Homo sapiens: one gene and its partners. The protein of the gene in region 4 purifies or fractionates together with the protein of the main gene of each other region. This does not show direct contact. Each region holds a gene or a part of one and is shown on either strand. Other genes may lie near its edges.

What was found. The genes of interacting proteins can lie anywhere in the genome.
Region 1: the proteins of SLC39A11 (region 4) and ZSCAN18 purify together in Homo sapiens (affinity purification with mass spectrometry; one large-scale study listed by BioGRID and IntAct). This does not show direct contact.
Region 2: the proteins of SLC39A11 (region 4) and CHSY3 purify together in Homo sapiens (affinity purification with mass spectrometry; one large-scale study listed by BioGRID and IntAct). This does not show direct contact.
Region 3: the proteins of SLC39A11 (region 4) and METTL9 purify together in Homo sapiens (co-immunoprecipitation; one large-scale study listed by IntAct). This does not show direct contact.

Annotation. Positions count from the first base shown.
Region 1 is NC_000019.10:58,083,356-58,085,793, forward strand, and holds the end of ZSCAN18 (zinc finger and SCAN domain-containing protein 18), read right to left. Parts: intron 2,025-2,438; coding exon 1,330-2,024; 3' UTR 501-1,329; downstream 1-500. UniProt on the Homo sapiens protein: May be involved in transcriptional regulation.
Region 2 is NC_000005.10:130,180,465-130,183,799, reverse strand, and holds part of CHSY3 (chondroitin sulfate synthase 3), read right to left. Parts: intron 1,341-3,335; exon of another isoform or gene 1,041-1,340; intron 1-1,040. UniProt on the Homo sapiens protein: Has both beta-1,3-glucuronic acid and beta-1,4-N-acetylgalactosamine transferase activity. Transfers glucuronic acid (GlcUA) from UDP-GlcUA and N-acetylgalactosamine (GalNAc) from UDP-GalNAc to the non-reducing end of the elongating chondroitin polymer.
Region 3 is NC_000016.10:21,654,774-21,657,971, reverse strand, and holds the end of METTL9 (protein-L-histidine N-pros-methyltransferase isoform 1 precursor), read right to left. Parts: intron 2,746-3,198; coding exon 2,540-2,745; 3' UTR 501-2,539; downstream 1-500. UniProt on the Homo sapiens protein: Protein-histidine N-methyltransferase that specifically catalyzes 1-methylhistidine (pros-methylhistidine) methylation of target proteins.
Region 4 is NC_000017.11:73,082,689-73,086,188, forward strand, and holds part of SLC39A11 (zinc transporter ZIP11), read right to left. Parts: intron 2,159-3,500; coding exon 2,120-2,158; intron 1-2,119. UniProt on the Homo sapiens protein: Zinc importer that regulates cytosolic zinc concentrations either via zinc influx from the extracellular compartment or efflux from intracellular organelles such as Golgi apparatus. May transport copper ions as well.

The sequences.
Region 1 (2,438 bases), on a different chromosome or scaffold from region 4:
CTGAGATGGAGTCTTGCACTGTCACCTAGGCTAGGGTGCAGTGGCACAATCTTGGCTTACTGCAACCTCCGCCTCCCAGGTTCAAGCAATTCTCCTGCCTCAGCCTCCTGAGTAGCTGGGATTACAGGCACGCATCACCACAGCTGGCTAATTTTTTGTATTTTTAGTAGAGACAGGGTTTCACCATGTTGGCCAGGCTGGTCTCAAACTCCATGATCTGCCTGCCTCAGCCTCACAAAGTGTTGGGATTACAGGTGTGAGCCACCACGCCCGGCCCATGAATAAGTACTTACTAAGTCTCTGTGATTTGGGGGTCATTACAACAGACTGCCTGCTCAAACACAGTGACAGAAAAAGAGGCACCAGTTTCTGTATCTACAGGGAGCAGTTAAGTTTATGCGCAGGGAGCAGTTAAGTTTATGCGCAGGCAATGGGAATGATACTGTAATCTTGAGAATAAATGCAATCAATGAAAAGATCACCTTATGTAGCCCAAGGAGTTTAGTCTCCTTTGCTCAGACAGACAGATCTTTATTAGTGTTTTCAACTTATTTTGCTCACAACTTCCCAGCAAGAAATGTCTTACATTGCAACCAGTTCTCACATTTAGATGTATGGGTGAAAAGTTTCACAAAACAGTATTTGCCTTTACTACATGATGCATTCTGGCCTACTTTATTCTGCTTCATTGCTGTGTAATGCTGGTGACCACTTGCTAATTGATTTCCCATTTTACTAAATGGGCTGGGACCCACGGTCTGAAAACCCTGCCTTAGGCTGCAAGCATTTCTGTGATCTCTGCGAGCTACTCCATATAGGTAAACACACGCGAGGTAAACTAGGAAACAGCTTCTGCTTTTGCAGATTAGAAGTGAAGTTGACATCACGCCAAGTACGAAAAGGCTAAACAGCTGACAAAATTTCCACTTGAGCAACCCTGGGGAGCGCAAACAGGAGGAATCGGGGCAAGGGTGACTTGAAGAAAGCACTGGCAGATCACGCACTTTAAGGCAACTCTACACTGCACAATGTCAAATAACCTAGCATGGGGCGGCACTAAATGGCTGCAGGAAAGCCGAGTCTTCTTCCACATCCGGCGGCTCCCCTCGGATGCGAGCGCTGGCCCAGGGTGTGTTTACAGAGGTGAGGGCTTCCCGTGGACCCTTCTCGTTGGGAGCGCTTAGCCTCAGGAGCGGATTCAGGGCACAGGCAGAGGACGTCCACAAACACCACAGGAAGCCGCCACCCAGGGGCGTGGAAAGGCCCAATGCCTCGTCTGGGATTCACGGCCGGCAAAGCGGCCCCTCCGGAACGGGACAGCACAGCGGCTCACCTCTGCGCCTCTGGGGGTGCGGGGGGAGCCTCGCCCTCCACGCTCTCTGGGGGACCGCCCGCCCTAGCCCCCGCCTGGGCTTCGCGGGTGGACGGTTGGGGGCCCCGGGCGCCCCCCAGCGCGTAGCTTTTCTCCTTCTCGTGGGTCTTCTGGTGCTCGGCTAGGGCCAGGCTGAAGTGGAAGGTCTTCCAGCAGCCCTGACAGGCGTAGCGCTTCCGGCCGCCATGGCTGCTGTGGTGCTCCATCAGGTGCGAGAGCCACGCGAAGGCCTCCCCGCACTCGCCGCAGGCATAGGGCTTCCCGCGGGACAAGCCCGGCTCGTCAGCCCCAGGGCCCTGCCCGGCCTCCAGCCCTGCGCTGTCGCCGGAGCTAGAGACGCCCTCGAGGCTCTGCCCGTCCCCATCCTCGGGGTGCGGCCTCTTGGTTCCCAGTTTCGCCGTGCCCCTGTCCGGGGCAGGCTGCTGGATGACGGACTGCCTCTGCGATCCGGTGGCAGAGTCGGACTCCGCGTCCTGGGGGTCCTGCGGGTCCGGGGCCTTCCCAGGCTGCTCTTCCTCCTCCTCAGTGGTGCCCGACGGGGGATCGGCAAGGGCGTCCCCAGGGGGCGCCTCCGTAGGCAGCTCAGGCAGCACCCCCGCGGGGGCGGCCTCCTCGCAGGCGCACCCAGCGCTCTCCTGCCGCCTCCCGCCTTCTGGAACAAGGTCAGAGCCCTAGCGTGAGCGCCCCGCCCAGGGCCAGGGAGAGGAGGACCCAGCCGAGCCTCAGCTGCCGGAACAGCGCACAGGGCTCCGGGCTCTGGATCCCCGCGGGGCTCACGGCTGTTTGGAAGCAGCGCTGTCCCTCCCAGGCAGCCCTGCAGCGCATGCCCCGCGCCTGCTGCTGCAGATGTGGGACCTGGAGGCCTCCAACAACGGAGGCCACCGACAGGACAGGAAGGACAGCCCCACTGAGCCCGGGTTCTGGAAACCGCGCCTTTGGAGGTCTCCACCTGGCCACTAGCTTGGCCACAAGATGCACGATGCAAGGAGAGCCTGCTCAGAGCGCACCCTCCTGGAGGGAGGGGCCCGGCTGCCAGCGAAGAGAGTGGGGTCAATAGCTAAGGCCA
Region 2 (3,335 bases), on a different chromosome or scaffold from region 4:
CTGAAATGTGGTATCATTTGACAAAAATCTCCCCAACCCCTCTCTCCAGCTGGCTTAGCCCCTGGTAACCAACATTCCACACTCTAGTCCTATGAAATCAACTTTTTGATTTCTATATATGAGTGAGAGCACAAATGTCAGGTTCATAGGCTCAAATATTGCAAATGAACCTCTAGCTATACATAAAACAACAATTGACTGTGTCCATAACCCCATAACAGATCACGGAGAAGGAGAGAGACAGAATGGACACAGCATGAGTCTTCCAAAATAAGGATTCACCCTAAGGAGGAAAACCAATGACCTGTTGTTTGGAATGGCAATAAGAAGTTATTTGCCAGGGGAGTCGTAAATTTCATTTAGCATCCTGATATACTATTTTTACCGAGTAAGTTCTTGGTAAGATAAGGTGAAACGGAAACTATACTGATCTACACTCCTGATGTAAAGTATCATACCCAAAATAGACATGCTTGACATCCTTATGAAACAAAAAGACTTTCTGCTAGTCTAGAACAAATTCACTAGTTCAGGCAGAAACAAAAATGAAAAAAAATATGTAGTTATGAGGACAAAGTTCAAACCGCCAGCTGATTCTTCCTTTTCTGCCAGTCGATTAAGACACCTCCATTATACCCACTCGAGATACGTGATTATGAACAATAAAAAGAAGGAAGAAAAGAGGGGATGAGGAGAAGGAGGTGAAAAAGAAGAAAAAAGGCCAGCAGCACCATGTCTGCAAATATACTGATGAATAAGAAGAAAGAAATATTGCAAACTTAAGAATACTCATCAGAAGCAGGTACAAATTGTACATAAATTTAAAAAAACAGCCTCTTCAAAAAAAAAACTCAATTAATAGACAAATAAGCTTAAAAAAGATAAAAAGTAAACTGGCAGGGCTAAGGAAAAAAGGGAGAAAAAAATAAAATCATTGATAGACATATTGCAAGAAGCATAAAAAGAGATTTGTGAAAAACGTAGGAAGAAGAGACTTGAAAAAAATTAGCAAAGTAATAGAAATATAAAATAGAGCTTACAGTTTGGAGAAAGGGTGGTCTTTTAAGTAATTAGTGCCAGATCAGTAGGATATTCATATAAGGGAAAAAAGTAAAAACGGATCCCCTACATCCTACAATGGATGACCTGTTGATGTAAACATAAAGGTTTATTTTAGAAAAAGGCTTTAAAAAGTTTCTAGAACTTACATGAAAATATCTGCAAGACTTTTGGGTATGTGAAGATTTTATAAATAGGGCATAAGGCACTAACCATTAAAACAGACTAATACATTACATTATGTTAAAGTTAAGAACCTTGTTCTTTAAAAACACCATTAGGAAAATAATAAAGGGCAATTACAGAGCAGGAGAAAAAAAATTCAATAGATTTTATGAAAAAGAACCAATTCCCAGAACATATAATAAACTTATACAAATAAGGAAAAAAGGAAGGACAAACCTAGCAGAAAAGTGACAAAGAAAACCTGAATGAGTACTTCACAAAAGAGTATGCAAATACTCAATAGACATATAAAAACATTCTCTACTTTATTCATCATCAAGGTAAAGCAACTTAAAATTACTATGGGATAACGTGATGGATCCACAAAAAAACAGATAGATAATACTGTGCATTGTGAAGGCAGTGGAAAATTTGGAACTCTCATACACTGCTAGTGAGAATATAACTTGGTTCTATCACTGAGAAAACCCGTATCAACTAAAATGAACATACATATTCCCTATGAGTCAGTAATTCTCTCTTAGATATATGCCCAATAGAAATACATATATATATATACATACATACACCTAAATATATATAGAATAATTTTCGTAGCTGCATTATTCATACTCCAAAACTGAAAATAACCTAAATTTACATCAAGAACAGAATAAATGTAGTATATTCATGTAATGAAAAACAATACATCAATTAAATACTTGAAATACTACTTGCAACAACATGGATGAATCTCACAAAAAATGAAAGAAGCCATATACATTTTGTATTATTCCATTTATGTGAAATTCAGAAACAGGTAAAGCTAACCTATATGGTTTGCTGTTGGAATAATGATCAAGAATCAAGAAGAGGGAAGCTTCTGGAGTGCTGGTAATGTTCTTTTATTTATCCAGGTGGTGGTCATATGTGTGCATTTAATATGTGAACATTCACTGAACTGCTGCTTAAGATATATTTATCTGCTATACTCCAATTAATGAAGGACTTTATTTTGAAAGTATGCATATATATGCACATAGAATTAGATATGCTTTTCTGACATGTATGTTCATAAATGTGTGGATATGTGGGCCTGGAGAGAGAGACAGAGAGAGAGAGAAGATATCAGAGAGATTTTCCCAGAGTTATTCACCCAAGTGTCTATTGAGAATGATGAGAATAAAATTAAAACTAGAATTCTCATGATTTTCAGTTTTTCTATAGATCATGATACATTTTGAACATAGCGAAATTGTTCTAAGAAAAATATGTGTAAAATTTATTTTAAAAATTATATTAATTTGCTTGAAATAATTAAGAACCTTTAGTTTAAGCTGGCTTCCTCTCCTTTAAAGAATTATCAGTGGATTTCATGGAACCTCCAGAACATTACACGGCAAAGAAAAATCATTTCACAACAACAAAATCACAGCAGCAATGAACACCAGTGTGCCCCGACTGACCCCAGTGCTTTAAGCGTATCACACATGATCTCACCCTCTGAGAAAGATTATCTGAGAGCCTCTAGGAAAATCTTCTCAAAAAACCTAACAGAAGAAGAATAAATGCCAAGAGGTAGTTTTATGTTGAATTATTTACTCTTCTACCGCATTAAACTTTCATTACCTTTCTTAGAATTATTAATAATGAAAACATAGCATAGGTCATTTCTGAAATGATCATAGCTATATAAATGAGAAACTTTTTTGTTTTTTGTTTTCTTGAGATGGGGTCTCACTCTGTCGCCGAGGCTGGAATGCAGTGGCCTGATCTCTGCTCACTGCAGTGCTCCTGGGCTCAAGCAATCCTCCCACCTCAGCCTCCTGAGTAGCTAGGACTTATAGGTGCATGCCACCGCACCCGGCTAATTTTTCAATTTCTTTTGTAGAGATGGGTCTCACTATGTTGCCTAGGCTGGTCTTGGACTCTTTGGCTCAAGTGATCCTCCCACCTCAGCCTCCCAAGGTCTGGGATTACAGGCATAAGGCACCGTGCCCAGTCTTAACTGAGAAACTTTAAAATATTAAAAAAACAAAAAACAAAAAACAAAAACAAAACAGGAGTTGATTACTAATAGGCACAAGGTAACTTTTGGAGCAATGGAAAAT
Region 3 (3,198 bases), on a different chromosome or scaffold from region 4:
ATCATGTAACACCTCCATCAGTAACCAAGTAGTGGGAAGCAATTAATGAAAACATCTTGCTTCATTAATACTGTAAATAACATACGCAGTATAGCCTATTAATACTATACTCAGAACCAAGTGAAAACAAAGCTTTGCTCAGGAAGACTTGAAACATCTACACTTTATTTTCCAACTCAACTTTTTTCTGTTAAAAGCCAACCATGTAAAAACTGATGACAGGTCACACTGGATGGCAGAAAATACAGTACTGCTTTTAACTACTCTGTACAAGGGATAAATGACTAAGGGCACTGTACCTCCTTTCCTCCCCTTCTCTGAGATCAGTGGTCTGAGCACTTTAGGAGCTTAAAATGCAGGTGCAGGGAGCTAGGAATCAGAGGTGTGGCTTGCATTTCAACCTTTAAGGTCAATTGGTTAGCTTGCTTTTACCACAAATAAAGCTCTTCTTAATTTCTCTAGTACAGTCTTAACTTGATATGAAGCACTTACACGAGGAATGGTGCAGACAAGGCAGCTTTATTGTACTTTGGGGGAGAAAAACATGATTCCATTTACGGGGAAAAAAGCCATTGACACTCAGTAAGCAACACTGCCATCTAGTGGAATGGTGACACACCACCAAGAATTTCAAGACCCGATAGGAAATGTGAGTGGATTTGGTTTCAATTTTCACCACAAAACAGCACTTTTAATAAGCTGGTTTTCAGAGAACTTCAGATTTTTTTGAGAAACTACTTTTTATCTTTAAAATGCATAAATGTATGTGTTTTCTCTGTTTTGGGGGGGTGGTTAAGAATGAGTTGTATTTTTCTTATTAGAGCATAAAGTTCTCTACTTGAAAGTTAGAAAACACTTTGGGGCAACCTGCCTCCTTGAACATCCATCACTTCTGCTTGACAGTCTAACAGCAACCCCTGATTTTAACAGACAGTTTATAAAGAAGCAAAACTCAACTGTACAAGAACGACATTAAGTTTTCTCATTTCCTCTTTCTATTTTTACAATCTATGGTGCTAAGTATTTGTACTTCACTTACTTGAATTCCTGGAAAAAAATCATTAGAACACACCAATAACAATTTTGCATAAATCACATAACCCAACTCTTATTATGACTGCACAGTAACAGTGGAAGATATTGGTGTGAGGATGTGGGAATGCAGTTCTTAATGAATAATAAAGTAATTCTTCAGGTTTTAATTCGCCTTTATACCCAGGTGTTGGAGTGAATGTGTTGATCTGATGACTTCTATGAGCATATAAATGAGAATACTTAATGAAACACCTGGATGAAAAAAGAAATAAAGTAGTGAGGATAACATATTGTTAATAACCACAATCTCATATTGACATTTCTGTTATTACTGAGATTTCAGATTCTGGGTTAAATGCTCTGCTCTTTGGAATATCCACGATGGTTATTGATCTTGCTAATGGGTTCCTCTATGGCAGCATTTCTGGGTTTATGGTTGGAGGCACTCACGGATTCCAGAATGCATGAGTCTGACACGGTCTTCATCAAACCATATTCTTGGCAAATAATAAACTCCTTTAAGGATTTCAGGGAAGAGCCAAGCTCTGGGAGAGAGGTATATAAGTGTAGAGTAAGAAGTTGAATTAAAACATTTTTAGTTGCATTTTGTCAGTAGACAAAACTGAATGTTTCAATTCTGAGAACCTGAGATTGTCCAGAAAAAAACAAAGTTCAGTGTATGGGACATGAGTGATCACAAAGTCAGAACCAGGTTATTTTGCATTTTTCACAGCAGCATTAACTGGGGGGGTGGGGGGAGGGGTCCCTGAAGTTCTGTATCTGAATGAGGCTGGGTTTTTGTTTCTGTTTTTTTTTTTTACTGACTCAGTGTTCACTGCAATTTGCAATAATCTCCCCTTCCCCCAAGTCTGAAGCCTTCCTTCCCCCCTATTCAAATTGTCTGCGTCATTCTCATAATGCTACTATTTGGGTACTCCTGAAGCCAAACCAATAAAAAATGCTAGGGGAGCTTTATATGAATTCAAACATGATGCCAAAGTCATCTCCAAAAAAGTTTATTAGCATGATTAAAAACATTTTCTTGAATAATAACAGAAAGAATTTCTAAACATGAAAGAATATCAGTGGCTATACCTTAAAACCAGTATTTGGAATTGAATGGACAGCTTTATTGCCAGTCTTCAAAAAACAATCCATTGATTGGTTCCATGAAGTCGTGACTATTGCTTTGTCTGGGAATGAGTCCCTACTGCAATTAAGTATAAAAAATATCTTCCATCATAATTGGAGTGTGACCTGCATTGGAGAGTGGCTCTGAGTAAAGAGTTGATAAAAATCCACAAAGAGTTGGGTTTTTGTCTTTTAAAAACATTCCTTTACACACTACAAAGAAATAATTAGTATTTTGGCTTTTTAAATTCCTACATGATATTTAGAATGGCGGTCCCCAAGGGTCCTCCCTTCACGTAATTGTGAACACAGACCCTCTTCCAAGGGCACATCCCGGAGGGTGCGGACTCTGAAGACTTCGACCTCCACGTGTTTATACTGGTTTGAGAACAAAGACAGCGTCATCCAGAACGTAGTAGTCATTATACATGTCGCCTTCACACAGGTATGGTAGTCTGGTGAAAGCTTCGATAACAAAACCAGCTTTTCTGAAAACTTCAGGCAGACTATTCACTTGTTCTTCCCAGTTCTGTCCTTTGATTTCCAAAATTTCTGATGGTTTCTCCCACTTGCCACCTACTAATACAAATAAGAACATTCAGTTAAATTCTTGAACAAACAAGTGATTTAAAGAGGGAAGCAGGGAGGAGCCATATCTACCAAGGACTTGGTACGTTCCAAGCCTGAGGGCTTCATGAGTTACCTCTTTTGTACTTCCCAGGTACTCTTTGAGACAGGTGGGCAGATAAAGAACAGACTCAGAAGGGGTGAAGAACTTGCCCACGCTTGCAAGGTTAATGAGTGTCAGTATGGAAATGTAAGCCCAGGTTTGTCTGGATCCAAGGCCCCACACTGTTATCTTCTCTGACAGTTTTGGGTAGTATCTGCCAATAGACTGACTGCAGGGTGTAATGGTTAATGGGTTTGGAAAACTGGTCATTAAATGCTGGAATACTGAAACAGAGAGCAACATGTAATATCTGAAGGACAGTTTTGGACAAATGCAAGAAAATACCACTGGCATAGTAAACT
Region 4 (3,500 bases):
CAAAGGACAGGATCACATCAGAACTGCTAAAGGAATTGTGGGCCGGGCATGGTGGCTCACACCTGTAATCCCAGCACTTTGGAAGGCCGAGTTGGGTAGACCACCTGAGGTCAGGAGTTCGAGACCAGCCTGGCCAACACGGCAAAACCCCATCTCTACTAAAACCACAAAAAAAAAATTAGCCAGGCGTGGTGGTGCACACCTGTAATCCCAGTTACTCGGGAGCCTGCAGCAGGGGAATTGTTTGAACTCGGGAGGCGGAGGTTGCAGTGAGCCAAGATCCAGCCACTGCACTCCAGCCTGGACAACAGAGGGAGACTCCATTTCAAAAAAAAAAAAAAAAAAAATGGACTTATGCCCAGTGATTAGAGACAAGGCCCTTCACTTTCTCCGTGCCAGCACCAACATTCCAAGGGGCCCTCCATGTCTGCCTGAAGACCATGCCACCCAGAGACAAGGTTATAAGGCAAGAGCATCTTTCTTGTGTAAGGTGGGAAAGGGAAGCTGTGCCAAGGAAGGAAAGAAAGTAGGGCTGGCTTCCCCGGCATTCTCAGGCACAGCAGTTATAGGGAAGAGAACGTATGGAAGCTGAGGACCTAGAAACTAATTTTCTCAACACTCTCTGTGCACCTGTGTATGGCTCAGAAAGGACAGTGTTTTTGACGGAACAGTGGCTCCAGTCTAACAGCTACTGACTCAGATGGCCTCTGGCAGGCTCCACCTCCAGGCTAGTTTTTCCAGATCGCAGGGCTATAAAAACTGAAGAAAGAAACCAAACCCTGATCAACTAAAAGGGAAACCCACATATTACACGCCTTTTGATATGGGTAATACATCTGCAATACACAGCACCATGACATCTTCATGCCTGAAAAATGGAATCTGAACTAATCAAGACTCCAGGTCTAACTCTCAGCTTACAGGAAATACAGGGGACTGAGGAACAAGTTAGGCAGCACCACGAGGAAGTAATCAGCCAACATTCTAGAGACAAATGACCCAGTTTCTCCAACAAATTACTAGCATGAAAAAAAAAATGAACTGTTAAAAAATTAAAGAGACTTAAAAGATATAACAAGCAAATGCAATATAGAAACCTTGTTTGGACCCCAATTATAACAAAACAATATTAGATGACACCTTTAGAAAGATGAAGAAAATCTGAATATGGACTGGATGTTAGATCATAAAAAGGAATTATTAATTTGGTAGGTATAATGGCCATGTGATTATGTTTATTTTTAAAAAGTCATTCAGTTAGACATGTGTGTTGAATTTACAGGTGGAATTACATGTCATCTGGGATTAGCTTTTATAAAATATTCTAACCTCCCAAGAAGTTTTGGGGAGGACAGGTGAACTGAGATTAGCAAAATGTCAATAATGATTGAAGTTGGGAGATGGGTGTCTGGGATGCATTACAGGCTTCTATCCACAATTTTTACATGTTTAACAATGTCTATAATATGCTGGGTTCCATAACTCACGCCTGTAATCCCAGCACTTTTGGAGGCCTAGGCAGGTGGATCACTTGAGCCCAGGAGTTCAAGACCAGCCTGGGCAACATGGTGAAACCCCATCTCTGCAAAAACTCAAAAATCAGCCAGGCACGTTGGCACATGCCTGTAGTCCCAGCTACTTGGGAGGCTGAGTTGGGAGGATCACCTGAGTCCAGAGAAGTTGAAGCTGCAGTGAACCATGACTGTGCCACTGTACTCTAGCCTGGGTGACAGGGTAAGGCTCTGTCTCAAAAAAAAAAAAAAAAAAAAAAAAAAGGCCTATAAAAAAGATCTTTTAAGGGAGAAGGGGAGGAAAAAGTATATTTAGTTAGAGCCAACTATGTATTAGGCTAGGCCTGTGCTAGGCCCTTACCAAATAAGATCTTATTTCCCTAGTCCTGAGGCAGCTGTCAAATAAACCTCGATTGCTGTCTAAAGAGAAATGGGCATTTGATAAGCTGGGAAATAAATATGGCAGGTGATAAGAGGGAGGTGTTAGTGCCTGAGGAACACAGAGATGCATCTAGGTCGCAAGGGGAGGGACTGAAGACAGCCCTTGGCAGACACATGTCAGAATCAGTATGCCTCAATTTCCATTTCTCCTACTACATGCTACTTACCCCTGCAGCAAAGCCAAGACTTCCATCTAAGATCCGCCTCTGAAAATCAAAACAAGATGTTTCAGTTTCCAAGAGACAATAAGATGATGTTTCCTGGGACAAGAAGAAACCATAAGGCCCAAAAGAGCCACGCAAATAAAGACTGGCCGACTCCTGAGCTCGTGAGCTACTCAGTTTATACCATGGGCCAAGAACCACGGGGAAAGTCTTTGGTTAACTTTCCACCCACCCCATAGCCAATCAGAAGCGTTCTTTCAAGTGGTGCTTGGCTTGTCTTGGCCCTTGTGTTGTCTCTTACTCAGCTTTCCCTGTGAATTACAACTGTAAACCTTTAGTAAGTAGCCTGTCTACAAGTTGGGAATTACTGAGCGTTGGTGAGGAGCAGAGGAGCAGGTGGAACAATCAAAACCCTCACACAGGCCGGGCACAGTGCTCACATGTGTAATCCCAGCACTGTGGGAGGCTGAGGCGGGCAGATCACCTGAGGTCAGGAGTTCAAGACCAGCCTAGCCAACATGATGAAACCCCATCTCTACTAAAAATACAAAAAAAAATAGGCTGGGTGCAAGGGTTCATGCCTATAATCCCAGCACTTTGCGAGGCCAAGGCAGGTGGATCACCTGAGGTCAGGAATCTGAGGTCAGCCTGGCTAACGTGGTGAAACTCCATCTCTACTAAAAATACAAAAATTAGTCAAGCACGGTAATGCATGCCTGTAATCGCAGCTACTTGGCTGAGACAGGAGAATCCCTTGAACTCGGGAGGCAGACATTGCAGTGAGCCAAGATCATGCCATTGCACTCTAGCCTAGGCAACAAGAGCAAAACTCCGCCTCAAAAAAAAAAAAAAAAAAAACCCTCACACAATGGCGGTGCAAACGGGTACCACCATTTTGGCAAACTATTTGGCAGCACCGATGAGAGGTGAACACTATGTGTGCCACTCCTGAGTAATCCCATGACAGGAATGCACTTGTATTCAACAAACCCATGAAGAAAAATGTTCGGCAGTGCTAAGAGCCCAAAACTAGAAACTACCCAAACTCTCACCAACAGTAGGATGGATATGTTAACTAGGATACACTCATACAACAGGTACCATAATGGCGATGGGAACGCACACACATACTACAGTTACATCTTACAAACAGACAGGGACATTAAAGAAACTGGAAAACAAGTAGGGTAAAATCAGCCAGATGCAGAACAGTACGTACTATATGATTACTCCATCTAAATAAAGCACAGAAACAGGGAAAATATCCGTGCTGTTAGAGATCACATGGGAGATGACCCTTGGAGTAAAGGTTGGGGATGGTGAGATTGGAAGGGAGACTGAAGGCTCCTGATTGGAAGGGGCTGTGAGGTGAGGAGCTGGTACT